Linked DNA regions of Homo sapiens: regions 1 and 2 are each reported to be linked to region 3. The links are microRNA targets in miRTarBase. Many come from high-throughput screens and were not tested one by one. Region 3 holds a microRNA gene; each other region holds the end of a gene's coding sequence.
The links. Region 3 holds the annotated microRNA hsa-miR-5586-3p (CAGAGUGACAAGCUGGUUAAAG, at 2,412-2,433, shown strand). A microRNA usually pairs through its seed, bases 2 to 8, with sites in the 3' UTR of a target mRNA and lowers its output. Matches are read on the target gene's strand: a 7mer-m8 pairs with bases 2 to 8, a 7mer-A1 pairs with bases 2 to 7 and ends in A, and an 8mer does both.

Region 1 (4,214 bases), not on the chromosome of region 3:
TTTGAGTGGCATCCAGAAAGAGATTAAATACAGTGACTCATTGCTTCAGATGAAAGCAAAAGAATATGAACTCCTGGCCAAGGAATTCAATTCACTTCACATTAGCAACAAAGATGGGTGCCAGTTAAAGGAAAACAGAGCGAAGGAATCTGAGGTTCCCAGTAGCAATGGGGAGATTCCTCCCTTTACTCAAAGAGTATTTAGCAATTACACAAATGACACAGACTCGGACACTGGTATCAGTTCTAACCACAGTCAGGACTCCGAAACAACAGTAGGAGATGTGGTGCTGTTGTCAACATAGTTCCAATGGCTCCTTTCTGACCTGCTTTCATGTTTTAATGTTTGTTTAATTTAATAGGAAACCTCATTTTAAATATAACACTCAAAAAAATGTAAATCATATTGTAGTATTCAATAGTTAATAAAAACTCGAGAAATGTGTTGTTTCTGATGTGAAATTTCCAAAGGAACTTTAATTATTGCAAGTTCAAGCAATGAACTATTTATCACGAATGCAGCACAAATAGCTTGTCGTTGTAGAACACAGAAATAATTTGATGGGAATCATATGATAATCTTCCTTAGCGTCTGTGGAAAACGATTTACATAAACTTTAAAAGCAATCCTCAATATTAGACAGTCCAAATATTCAAACATGAAGAAGTAGAATTAAAATGTGCTGTAATATATATTTTTCCAACACTGTATAATTGGAATTTTTAAATCTGTAAAGTATATGGGAGCTACTGTGTTGTAACTGCATTAATTCAAAGTTTGGTTCTTTTAATTGATCCTTGATAATACAACGTATCATGTATATCACTTCCTGAACCCTTCTACCTGTTGAGGCCTATGAAACAGGCTGCTGTTGGGACATGTATAAATACTGGCAGGGAATCAGACACGTATAGGGTACAGATGAGGCAGGGCCAAGTGCTGCATACAAACAGCAATTTTTATAAAGAAGCCTCAATTTATTAAGAGCTATGTGTGGATGTTTGCTATCTGGCAATTCAGATCTCCTGACCAAACCCATGTTCATTCACTGAGTGAGGTATAGTGTGGGTTACAGAGAAAATCAGTCATAGTGTTATTTGTTTATGTCCTATCTACAAAAGTTGCAATGATGGAATTTGGAACCCTTCTGTGGATAAAATAGAATCTGCTATAATTATTAGCATTTTGTCTCTGAACCTACAGAGAGGAGACCACATGGACAAAAGACTTATTCTGCTATGCTATAACTCAGATTGTCTTATTTCTTCATCTAAAGTGCTTAAAAGAGACTTAGTTCCTAAAAAAGTACCAGCAAAATCCCCAACACACTAGTAAGAATTCAAGAAATTGAAGGGATTATTTAGGTCTTATCTTGACTGACAATCATTATTATGGCCTACTATGCTTGTGTTTTAATTAGAAATGTGCTTTCTTCTCTCTCCCTTCTTTGCTTACTTTCTTCTTATTTGCCTTCCTGTCTGCCTTACTTCCTCTCTTTTCCTGCCTTCATCTCTCCTTCTCCCGTCTTCTTTTTTTCCTTTGCTTCCTTCCTGCCAATGAACACATGATGCAATCATAATGAAATAATTATTTTTTATTGTACTGTTAACTGAGTACTGCTGCAGTTTATTTTTATTTAGCTGATATCTTTCCTGTGTGTCACTGCACATGTAAGTAGAAATATTATTTTACTTAGTTTTAATATGTGGACATTGGTTAAGGGTCCCAATCCTTCTCATTTCTTCTCTTTTATTCTTTTGCATACTTTTAGTGCAGGTTTTAACTCAGTTTTCTTATTGTTTTACTTTCAAAATTTGAAAAGTATTTAATTTTTTAAAGCAACTTTATTGTTAACTCATTTAAAAAAATATATTGCTCCTTAAATCTTCTTAACATATTTGTTCCTGCCTTCTCCTGTCTTTTAACTCATCTTTGGGAAGACATTTAGAATTTTCTGATTGTTTCAGTTTCGTGAGCATTTATACTATCATTTCTTGTACCAAAATAGATATTTTCAGGTCTTATTTCAAGTTGGCTGGTAAGAAAAATAGAAATTTCCATTCTATGGAAAAATACAGTGATAAAGAGTAATAATTCTGGCATCGGTTACATTTTTTTAAAAAAGATAAAATTGAATAGTCATCTGTGAAAGGAAAGTTCACCTGACTAAGAGTCCATAAAATTATTCAACAATATAAGCCACTGACATATTCATTGTTCACTAATGGGGATCAAATTCAGAAGATCATCGTAAATGATAAACCCATTGTATCATTTTCCTACAGTGGAAGTCATCTCTTTGAATTATTCTTATCTTTAGTGAGAAAATACTGAAAGAACATGCTTATCTATTTGACTAATTATCTGAATTCAAGAGGTTCTGATAAGAAGTAGGCCTGGAGAGATAATTTCATCTTAGAAACTTTGAATTAACTTCTGCTTTTATACAGTTAAGCACAGTAATGCATTTAAGGCTCAATTCTTCTACATTTTACAGTAAATAATGTTTGTAAGTCTCAGAAAGCAGTACCATTGCTTTTTAAATTCATTTCAGAATTTCCATTTGCTCATTAGTTATACAAATGTATTTGTGCGTTTGATCACTACAATCATTAAGTTTTAATCCTTCATCAGCTACCATGGTGAACCTCTTAATTTACAGTTACATGTTAATATATTAACACAAATAGAAGTACTGAAATACAATGCCCTCATGTCTGGATACTGAACTATTTGTTATTAAATTAAGTGAGAATTGGAATTATAAGTATAGAACTTGATAGAAAGTGTAATGTTATTATCTATAGAAATGTTAAAGTATAAATTCTTGAGTAATCTGACAGGTTAACTATGAAATTGCTATATGCAGCTAGAAGAAACAAACCAAAGCTGACTATTCTTAATTTCTGTAACAGGACCTAGATTCATCCTTGGTCATCCTTCCACTTGGAATTCTCCTTTTTATCCTTCTGCAATGCTCTGAAATCTTACCCTTTCCACAGTCTTTTTAATGTGCTAGCTCTTCTATGATATACGTTTGTTCCATTCAATTAGTTGGAATCTCATCTCTGAACCCAGAAATATTTTAGAGGTACTTCTCATAAGAAGCATTTTTATTCTGGCTTACGCTATATATATTTATGCACTTACCTAATTCCCCTCCTTCAATGAATTCTATTTTTTTTTTCCTTGAGACGGAGTCTCACTCTGTCGCCCAGGCTGGAGTGCAGTGGCGCGATCTTGGCTCACTGCAAGCTCCGCCTCCCGGCTTCACGCCATTTTCCTGCCTCAGCCTCCTGAGTAGCTGGGACTACAGGCGCCCGCCACCACGCCAGGCTAATTTTTTTGTATTTTTTTAGTAGAGACGGGGTTTCACCGTGTTAGCCAGGATGGTCTCGATGTCCTGACCTTGTGATCCACCCGTCTTGGCCTCCCAAAGTGCTGGGATTACAGGCGTGAGCCACCGTGCCCGACCAATGAATTCTTATTAAATTACTTTATCATCTGTCTTGTTAGCCTTACTCTTTCCTATTAACTTCTTTGCCCCCTGCTCCCTTTTTGAATTGAGTGGCTAAATTTTAGAGGTTTGTAGCTTTTGTGTGTGTGTGTGTGTGTTTTATAGATGGTAAATGATGCTTGTACATTTTGTACATGAATGAATACGTATTTTAGCAGACTTAAAACATTAACAGTAATTGACCTTATACATTTTGGGAAAGAAAAATTAAATCTTCATGCTACTACGATTTTTTTAAATGTGGCATCAATGTTTATTTTTAATAATAGTATTACTGACTTAATAAACCCCAAATGTCTCTTTAAGCTGATTTAATGGTTATATTATAGAATTTTTTATTTCATTGTGTGCTTATGAGAAAAAACATATTTTAGAGTTGGGTTTTAAATGGTAGACACAGAAAGTAACTTTAAAATATCCTAAACAAAATATCTATTTCATTTTTCTTCTTAAGTAAAATAACAACACCTCATTAGTGTGTAGAAGCTATTCTAATCCATTAAAATTTTATTTTTATATTTATTTAAATATCTACTGTACATGACAAAATATATTTCTGTGGCTGCCTTTTATAATTATTTTCCAAGTAGACATAATCTATTTAAAACATATTTTTCTAGTGACAAAGAAATACATTTTATCCTGATATATAGTTTTTAAATACTAGGCTATTTCTTTTCATACTGCCTGATTGGTT
Region 2 (4,223 bases), not on the chromosome of region 3:
CAGAGTCTACAATTCTTCTGTGAAGGGAACTTAAAAGACTTTTCCACCGAACCCCTTGACAGGACAGGGAGAGCCAAGTGGGGAAAGACTGGACGTTAAGGGGCGGAGAGGAGCCTTTAGAGGAGAAAAAATGCCTTCTGACTGATGGATTTACATTTACTGGTATTCCTCATTGACACGATAAACGAGTCGATAAGCCCAACACGATTGAATAACAAGTAGAAATGCATTCTATTAGATTCATCTTCTCTGAGAATGCATTATGGTAGCTTCGCTCTTCTTGGGTGTCATGGACTGATGACTTTTCAAATATATGGTATCAATTGTGCCAGCCAATATTCTCCTTCTGGTGCTTATATTGTCCCAACTTTGGCCAGGAGGAGCCCTGTATAGATTGTTCCTTGTGTAATTTTGAATGACCCTTATTTAATGCTTTGCTTTCTGTCTCAAAAAGGTATAGGTGTTTTAAGATTACCTTGTACCTTTCAACTCCAAACTGACATGGCATCCATTACTGCTCCAAGAAACTTTGGCTCCTTTGGGAGAAAACTAACACTAGAAACCAAAATCTTAGCATTAAGATGCATTGTGGAGGTGACATTTCTCCTGGGCCATTTCAGTGGAAAAAAGTCAAAATATTTTTAATGTCATGTTTCATAAAGACATGACTTCATATTAATATGTTTGATTCAGTTCCAACAGTGCCCTGTTCTTAGTCAAATTTGGGATCCTAAAATTAGCCTTCCTTGTCACTAATCCTAAAATCTAGATTCTTATCAAAATATACAAAATATATATTATTTACTTGCTTTATCTGATAAGATAATAGTTGCAAAAATACACTATCAATACAAAGGGATAAATACTCAATAAAGTTTTTGTTTTAGACTACATACACCTACGGATTTGTTGCCAAATTACTTTGTTCTAGAATCTCTCATAATATCTCACACCATGTGGCTATGCAGGGACTTATCTGACAGGTAGTTCTGGGTCCATTGTTTCCATCCACTTTCATTTTGAAGAGGCTGCAACCTGCCCCCAGCCCCCGTTTTCTGCTCTACTTTTTCATTTTACCGTGACTTACAAACTCCCAATATACTAAATAATTCACTGAATAATAATACTGTTATTGTGTTATTATTTCTCCCTTACCCCATTGGAATGTAAGCCTCATGGAGCAGGGATTTTATTCACTGGACCCTGGCAGTTGCACCCTAAAGGCAGGACTAAGAAAGCTGGGCTTGATTCTGGGGGCTCAGGGGACTCTACTGGGTTGGCCTGCAAGAGACAGTCTTCAGTGAAACAGCAGAAGCCACTCTAGGCTGCTCCCAAATACTTATCCCCCCACAACACACACACACAAGTACTTCCCCCAATTCCCACAGGACTCAATGAGAAACTGTGAAAACAAAGCAAGCCAGTAGTGCTGAGCCTGAGCCCCTGGACTCAGTGACTGGGCATCTGGAGGGTTGGAGCTTCTAGAAAAAGAATGTGGCAGGAAGCTGTGCCTTATGATGAGAGTGACCTGGCTCCTGGTTTGCCCAGAGGAGTCCCGATTTACAGCTGTGGTCCTGCCGTAATTACTAATCACATTCCTTTTCACTCATGTAAGTGTCCAGATGTAGGGATAAATGCATTGGAGGGGCAGGGAGGAGGCCTGGGGACTTGGGATAGAAGTGCTCCAGGGGAGAGGGAACAGCCAGCTGTAGAGGAGGCAGCCCCTCCACCAATGGGGGCTGGCAGGTCGGGTGCATGGCTGGGGCTCCATAAATGCACATTCAGGGCAAGGGGAGACAACAGAAGAATCAAGAGAAATCTCTGTGTACCTATAGATGCCAAAAAATGGATGGGCACTGGGAATAGTTGTGAGAGACTCAAGCAGATGGAGGTCAGGGTCCTTTCTCAGTTCTGCGCCTGGGCTGTGACAGAAGGATAGTGCCCCCCACCACCCCACCATAAGGGGGCAGGAAGAGAGAGGAGGGAGGGTGATGACTGGAATAGTAATATGGTCTTTGTTTTTGCAAACTGAAAGTGTGTTTCTAGTTTAGGTCAAATATAAAATTAGCACACACCCTCTAACGAACAACACAGAGAAGCATACAAAATAACACAAAGGAAAAGAAGGAACGGGTCTTGAGCGATCTCATGCTCCTGGAGAGACCCCTCCAGGTGGTGAAGGGCTGTGGGCCTCTGGGGAAACACCCAGTTGATGCAGTTAGACTGTCCCACCACTGGGCTGGCTGGAAAGGGCCCAGGAAGTGAGGGTGAAGATAAACCAACTTGGAGGCTCCAGAGCTTCGAGGGGGTTAGAAAGCAAGGCGCAGGCCCTGCCCATCAATCCCTTCACCCCTCAAGAAGTTTCCTCCCATCATTCCTTCTCTGTGGTTGGCTCTTTTCTTCACCTGGTGGGGCAAAGGGGTGGGTAGAAGCTTCCAGAGGTAGGTCCTAAATGAGCAGACTAAGAGGGGCTGGGGATACCCTGAGTAAGCTGTCAAGGAAAAGAGGGTTCCCCAGGGATTTCCTGTGGGGTGGGGCCAACAGGAAAGGCTTAGGAGCACCTAACCAGGCGAAGCTTATGCCAGCTGCCTCAGTTGGGGTTCTCATGCAGCCAGAGGCTGCCCCCAACCAGGCAGCCCTGGGCTCTGGACTTCTGGGGCTGCTCCTCCGCTGCTCCCATCCCCACCCCCACCCCCACCCCGAGTCCTCTTGACCAAAGGTATCCTTTGGAGCCTCTCTGGACTTGAGGTTGAAAATGTAACTAGAACTTTAAAGACCGCTTTTGGCCAGGGTGGCCCTTTTTATTTGCTGAATTCTGTACTTTACCAACAGAAAAAAGGAGCACAACAAACATGCACATGTTACTGACTTCTGCATTCTCGTCGCATTGCACACATACATTTCACCTGCTGTCTGCAGTGTGCACACACTGTCAACACTTTACAGTAGTTCATGGATCCTCCGTGTTCATGCACATCCCATTTTCAGTGTGGCTGTGACCTTCCTCCAGGTCACCTACTGTAGAGCTCGCTAAGCCATTCCCCTCTGCACCGGCATTGGGCTTGAAGTGAACTCAACACCATTGCTCCCATGATTCCTTTTCTCTCAAGGATTATTCTGGGAAAGTGGGCTCTCCAAGCCACCCAGTGTGTAGAGTCCTTGATCATTCTCATCATACATTTATGTCCTGCTCTCCAGAAACACTGAATCAGTCAGACTGTAGAGTGTCACCAGTTTCCCTCTAGCCTTGCAAGTGCTGGGTGTATTTATGTGTACGTGTGTATATATAGAGAGAGACTCTGTGTGTGTGTGTTTAGCAGGTGTGTAGGTAATTCCCCCATTACAGATGAGAAAACTTAGGACCGAAGGGATGAAGTCACTTTTCCCAGGGTTGCTCAGCCAGCAAGTGGCAGCCCCCAGTCTAGAGGTCACATCCCCTAAGCCTCAGTCAGTGTTCTGTTAGACAAACCACCCTGCCTCTGATGGTTGCTTCTAGACTTGTAGACAACAGGCTCTTCCTACTTCTCTCATCCCTTGTCCGTGGCGGAAAACAGAAACACAACTTGTCCCCTCATGGTTTCCATGTCATGCAGACCAGGTTCTCGGCTTCACCTGGGCCCTTCCGCAAACCTATGAGATCCAGGCCCTGAGGAGTTCCTCAGGAGACATCACAGCCGTGGCACAGGCATCCACCTCCTCCCTTCTGCAGCTGATTAACTTCTGGGGTGAATTGGTTATTTTCTGAAAAATAATTTTCATTAATATTCATTAGAGGATAGCAGTAGTAGTAATACTAAAGAATATTATTACATTTTTAACTATTTGATTAATTAATTTCCAAGCAGCAAAAACAAAAACCAAAAAACAATTTCAAGCCCTAGATCAGGGGCTTCCAACATTTGCTAAGAATATCTCCCAGTTCACTACCCTACAGTTCCCTTGAAGCCCTGCTTGGTCAGAGTTCCTCATTCTAAGACCCTGCCCCACAAAAACCCAGAATGTAATTCTGGTTCTTAAAAAAAAAATTAAAGGCAGGTGCAATGGCTCACACCTGCCTTGGGAGGCTGAAACAGGCAGATCGCTTGAGCCCAGGACTTAGAGACCAGCCTGGGCAACATAGCAAGGCTCCCTCTCCACAAAAAATAAACTAGCCAGGCATGGTGGCACATGTCTGTGGTCCCAGCTACTCGTGAGGCTGAGGCAGGAGGATCAATTGAGCCTGG
Region 3 (4,249 bases):
GGCTTTTGTTGCCATTGCTTTTGGTGTTTCAGTCATGAAGTCTTTGCCCATGCCAGTGTCCAGAATGATATTGCCTAGGTTTTCTTCTAGGGTTTTTATGGTTTTAGGTCTTACTTTTAAGTCTTCAATCCATCTTGAGTTAACTTTTGTATAAGGTGTAAGGAAGGTGTCCAGTTTCAGTTTTCTGCATATGGCTAGCCAGTTTTCCCAACACCATTTATTAAATAGGGCATCCTTTCCCCATTGCTTGTTTTTGTCAGGTTTGTCAAAGATCAGATGGTTGTAAATGTGTGGCATTATTTCTGAGGCCTCTGTTCTGTTTCGTTGGTCTATATATCTGTTTTGGTACCAGTACCATACTGTTTTGGTTACTCTAGCCTTGTCATAAGTAAAAAGAACAAAGCTAGTGGCATCACACTACCTGAATGCCATTTATTTCTTTCTCTTGCCTGAGTGCTAAGGCCAGGACATCCAATACTATGTTGAATAGGGGTGGTGAGAGAGGGCATCCTCGTCTTATGCCAGTTTTCAGGGGGAATGCTTCCTGGTTTTGTCCATTCTGTATGATGTTGGCTGTGGTTTAGTCATAGATGGCTCTTATTATTTTGAGGTATGTTCCTTCAATACAAAGTTTATTGAGAGTTTTTAACATAAATGAATGTTGAATTTTATCAAAAGTTTTTCTGCATCTATTGAACTAATAATGTGATTTTTGTCTTTAGTTCTGTTTATGTGATGAATCACATTTGTTGATTTGCATATATTGAACCAACCTTGCATCCCAGGGATAAAGCCTTCTTGATCATGGTGGATTAACTTCTTGATGTGCTGCTGGATTCAGTTTCCAAGTATTTTGTTGAGGATTTTTGCCTCAGTGTTCATCAAGGATATGGGGCTGAAGTTTTCTTTGTTGTGTCTCTGCCAGGTTTTGGTTTCAGGATGATGCTGGCCTCACAGAATTAGTTGGGGAGGAGTCCCTTCTCATTTTGTTGGAATAGTTTCAGTAGGAATGGTACCAGCTCTTCTTTCTTTATTTTAATGGCAGAATGCAGCTGTGAATCCATCTGGTCCTGGACTTTTTGGTTGATAGACTATTTATTACTGATTCAATTTCAAAGCTCATTATTGGTCTGGTCAGGGAAGCAATTTCTTCCTGGTTCAGTCTTGAGAAGGTATATGTGTCCAGGAATTTATTTATCTCTTCTAGGTTTTCTAATTTGTGTGCATGTGTGCATAGAGGTGTTCATAATAGTCTGTAATAGTTATTTGTATTTCTGTGGGGTCAATGGTAACATCCCATTTGTCATTTCTGATTGTGTTTATTTGGATCTGTCTTTTCTTCTTTATTAGTCTAGGTAGTGGACTACCTTATTAATGTTTTTCAAAACACCAACTCTTGGATTTGCTTATTTTTTCATGGCTTTTAATGTCTTGATCTCCTTCAATTCAGCCCTGATTTTGGTTATTTCTTGTCTTCTGCTAGCTCTGGAGTTGGTTTGCTCTTGCTTCTCTAGTTCTTTTAGTTGCAGGGTTAGGTTATACATTTGAGATGATTCTAACTTTTGATATTAAGTTGGAATTTAGTGCTATAAATTTCCCTCTTAACACTGCCTTAGCTGTGTCCCAGAGATTCTGGTATGTTGTATCTTTGTTCTCATTAGTTTCAAAGAATTTCTTGATTTCTTCCTTAATTTCATTATTTACCCAAAAGCCATTCAGGAGCAGGTTGTTTAATTTCCATGTAACTGCATGTTTTGAGTTTTTTGTAGTCTTGATTTTCACTGCTATCCAAGAGTGAATTTGGTATGATTTCAGTTCTTTTACATTTGCTGAAAATTGTTATATAACCAACTGTGTGGTTGACTTTACAATATGTGCCATGTGGTGATGAGAAGAATGTATAGTCTGTTGTTTTGGGGTGGAGAGTTCTGTGGAGATCTATCAGATCCATTTGGTCCAGTGTTGAATTTGGGTCTGAAATATCCTTGTTAATTTTCTGCCTTGATCATCTGTCTAGTTCTGTCAGTAAGTGTTGAAGTCTCCCACTATTATTGTGTTGGAGTCTAAGTCTCTTTGCAGGTCTCTTGAGAACTTGCTTTGTGAATCTGGGTGTCCCTGTGTTGGGTGCATACGTATTAGGAGAGTTAGGTTTTCTTGTTGAATTGAACCCTTTACCATTATGTAACGCTCTTGTCTTTTTTGATTTTTGTTTGTTTAAAGTCTGTTTGTCTGAGATTGGGATTGCAACCCCTGCTTTTTTCTGTTTTCCATTTGCTTGGTAGATTTTCCTCCATCCCTTTATTTTGAGCATATGGATGTCACTGCATGTGAGATGGGTCTCTTGAAGACAGCATACCATTGGGCCTTGCTTCTTTATCCAGCTTGTTACTATATGCTTTTTAAATGGGGCACAGAGTGACAAGCTGGTTAAAGAAGCAAGACCCCTTCAAGATTATTATTGATATGTGTGGATTTGATTCTGTCATTGTATTGTTATCTGTTTTTTATGCCAGCTTGTTTGTGTGGTTGCTTTATAGTGTCACTGGCCTCTGTACTTGTGTTTTTTTTTAATTGGCTGGTAATGGTCTTTCCATATTTAGTGCTTCGTTCAAGATCTCTTGTAAAGCAGATCTGGTGGTAATGATCTCCCTCAGCATTTGCTTATCTGAAAAGGATCTTATTTCTTCTTCACTGAGGAAGGTTAGTTTGGCTGGATATGAAATTCTTGGTTGAAGATTTTCTTCATTGAGAATGTTGAATATAGGCCCCCAATCTCTTCAGGCTTGTAGGGTTTCTGCTGAGAGGTCTGCTGCTAGCCTGATGGGGTTCCCTTTCTCTCTAGCTGCTTTTAACATTCCTTCTTTCATTTTGACCCTGGAAAGTCTGATTGTGTATCTTGGTGATGATATTCTTATGGAGAATCTTGCAGAGGTTCTCTGTATTTCCTGAATTTGACTGTTGGCCTCTGTAGTGAGGTTGGGAAAGTTTTCACAGAAGATATCCTGAAATATGTTTTCCAAGTTGTTTGCTTTCCCCCAATCCCTTTCAGGGATGCCAGTGATTTATAGTTTGGGCCTCTTTATATAATCCCATATTTCTCAGAGGTTTTATTTGTTCCTTTTCATTATTTTTTCTTTATCTGTATATGACTGTCGTGTTTAAAAGAGCCAGTCTTCCAAGTTCTGAGATTTCTTCCTCAGTTTGGTCTATTTTGCTGTTAATTCTTGTGACTGCATTGTGAAAATCTTGCAGTTTGTTTTTCAGCTCTATCAGATGAGTTCTTTTATACTGGCTATTTTATCTGTCAGCTTCGGTATCATTTTATTTTGATTGTTAGTTTTCTCGGATTGGATTTTGCCATTCTCTGGAACCTCAATGATCTTTGTTCCTATCAGTATTCTGAATTTTCTTTCTGTTATTCCAGCCAACCCTGGTTAAGAATCCTTGTTGAAGAACTAGTGTAGTCATTTGGAGGATATAAGACACTCTGGTCATCTGACTTGTCAGAGTTCTTGTGTTGGTTCTTTCTCATCTCTGCATTTAGGTGTTCTCTTAACTGCTGGGCTGCCTCTGATTGAAGCGGTCAGGCAGGGGCAGAGTGGTTGCACTGGAGTCCTGGGCCTGGTAACTCTGCCCAGTGAAGAGAAGTGAGGACCAGGACCTGCGTGGAGAACAGTATGGACACTTTTCCATTAGGTGGATGCTCTGTGCTGGGGGTTCAGACCAGTGCCGGGTCCCCATGGACTCTCTAGAGCCTGGAGACAAGAAGGGTGAGGGCTGTGAGACAGCAAAGATGGCAACCCACCCCTCCCACTGGGAGCTCTGTCCCAGAGAGCTGAAGAACTGCTACTGGCTCAATAGCTCCAGTGGGGAAAGGCTGGAGACCCAGGCTGGGAGAACCTGCCCAGTGAGGAGATACGGGAACAGGGACTCATGTAACAAACATATAGAAAACATGTAACATGTAGAAAACATGTAACATATAGAAAACATGTAATATATAGAAAACATGTAACAAACATATATAAAAGTCTGGCCACTTTTCCATTGGGCTGCTGGAATATGCAGGAGGTCTGCTCCAGTTTCTAATCACCTCAGATTTTCCAGCACCTGAAGGTATCAACAATCAAGGCTGCAAAACAGCAAAGATGGCAGTGTGTCACTCCCTCTGGGAGCTCCATCCCAGGGAGGTATGGATCTGTTGCCAGCTTGAACATACTGGCGAGGGTAGTTGTAAATCTTGGTCAGG

Region 1: the mRNA of RASSF9 is a reported target of hsa-miR-5586-3p. Seed matches in the 3' UTR shown: 7mer-m8 at 3,203-3,209.
Region 2: miRTarBase lists IL20RB as a target of hsa-miR-5586-3p. Seed matches in the 3' UTR shown: 7mer-A1 at 3,221-3,227.

The regions. Positions count from the first base shown.
Region 1 is chr12:85,800,792-85,805,005 of GRCh38, reverse strand. RASSF9 (Ras association domain family member 9) reads left to right here. Exons shown (of 2, transcript NM_005447.4): 2 at 1-4,214. The coding sequence ends at 304. Among named protein-coding and RNA genes, the nearest start is that of RASSF9, 34 kb to the left of the region's middle.
Region 2 is chr3:137,009,631-137,013,853 of GRCh38, reverse strand. It overlaps IL20RB (interleukin 20 receptor subunit beta), which reads right to left. Exons shown (of 7, transcript NM_144717.4): 7 at 2,769-3,741. The coding sequence ends at 3,631. Among named protein-coding and RNA genes, the nearest start is that of IL20RB-AS1, 30 kb to the right of the region's middle. RefSeq lists a cis regulatory region at 1-76.
Region 3 is chr14:59,645,146-59,649,394 of GRCh38, reverse strand. MIR5586 (microRNA 5586) reads left to right here and starts at 2,375; the gene lies at 2,375-2,433. The region is part of intron 3 of RTN1 (reticulon 1); the gene reads left to right.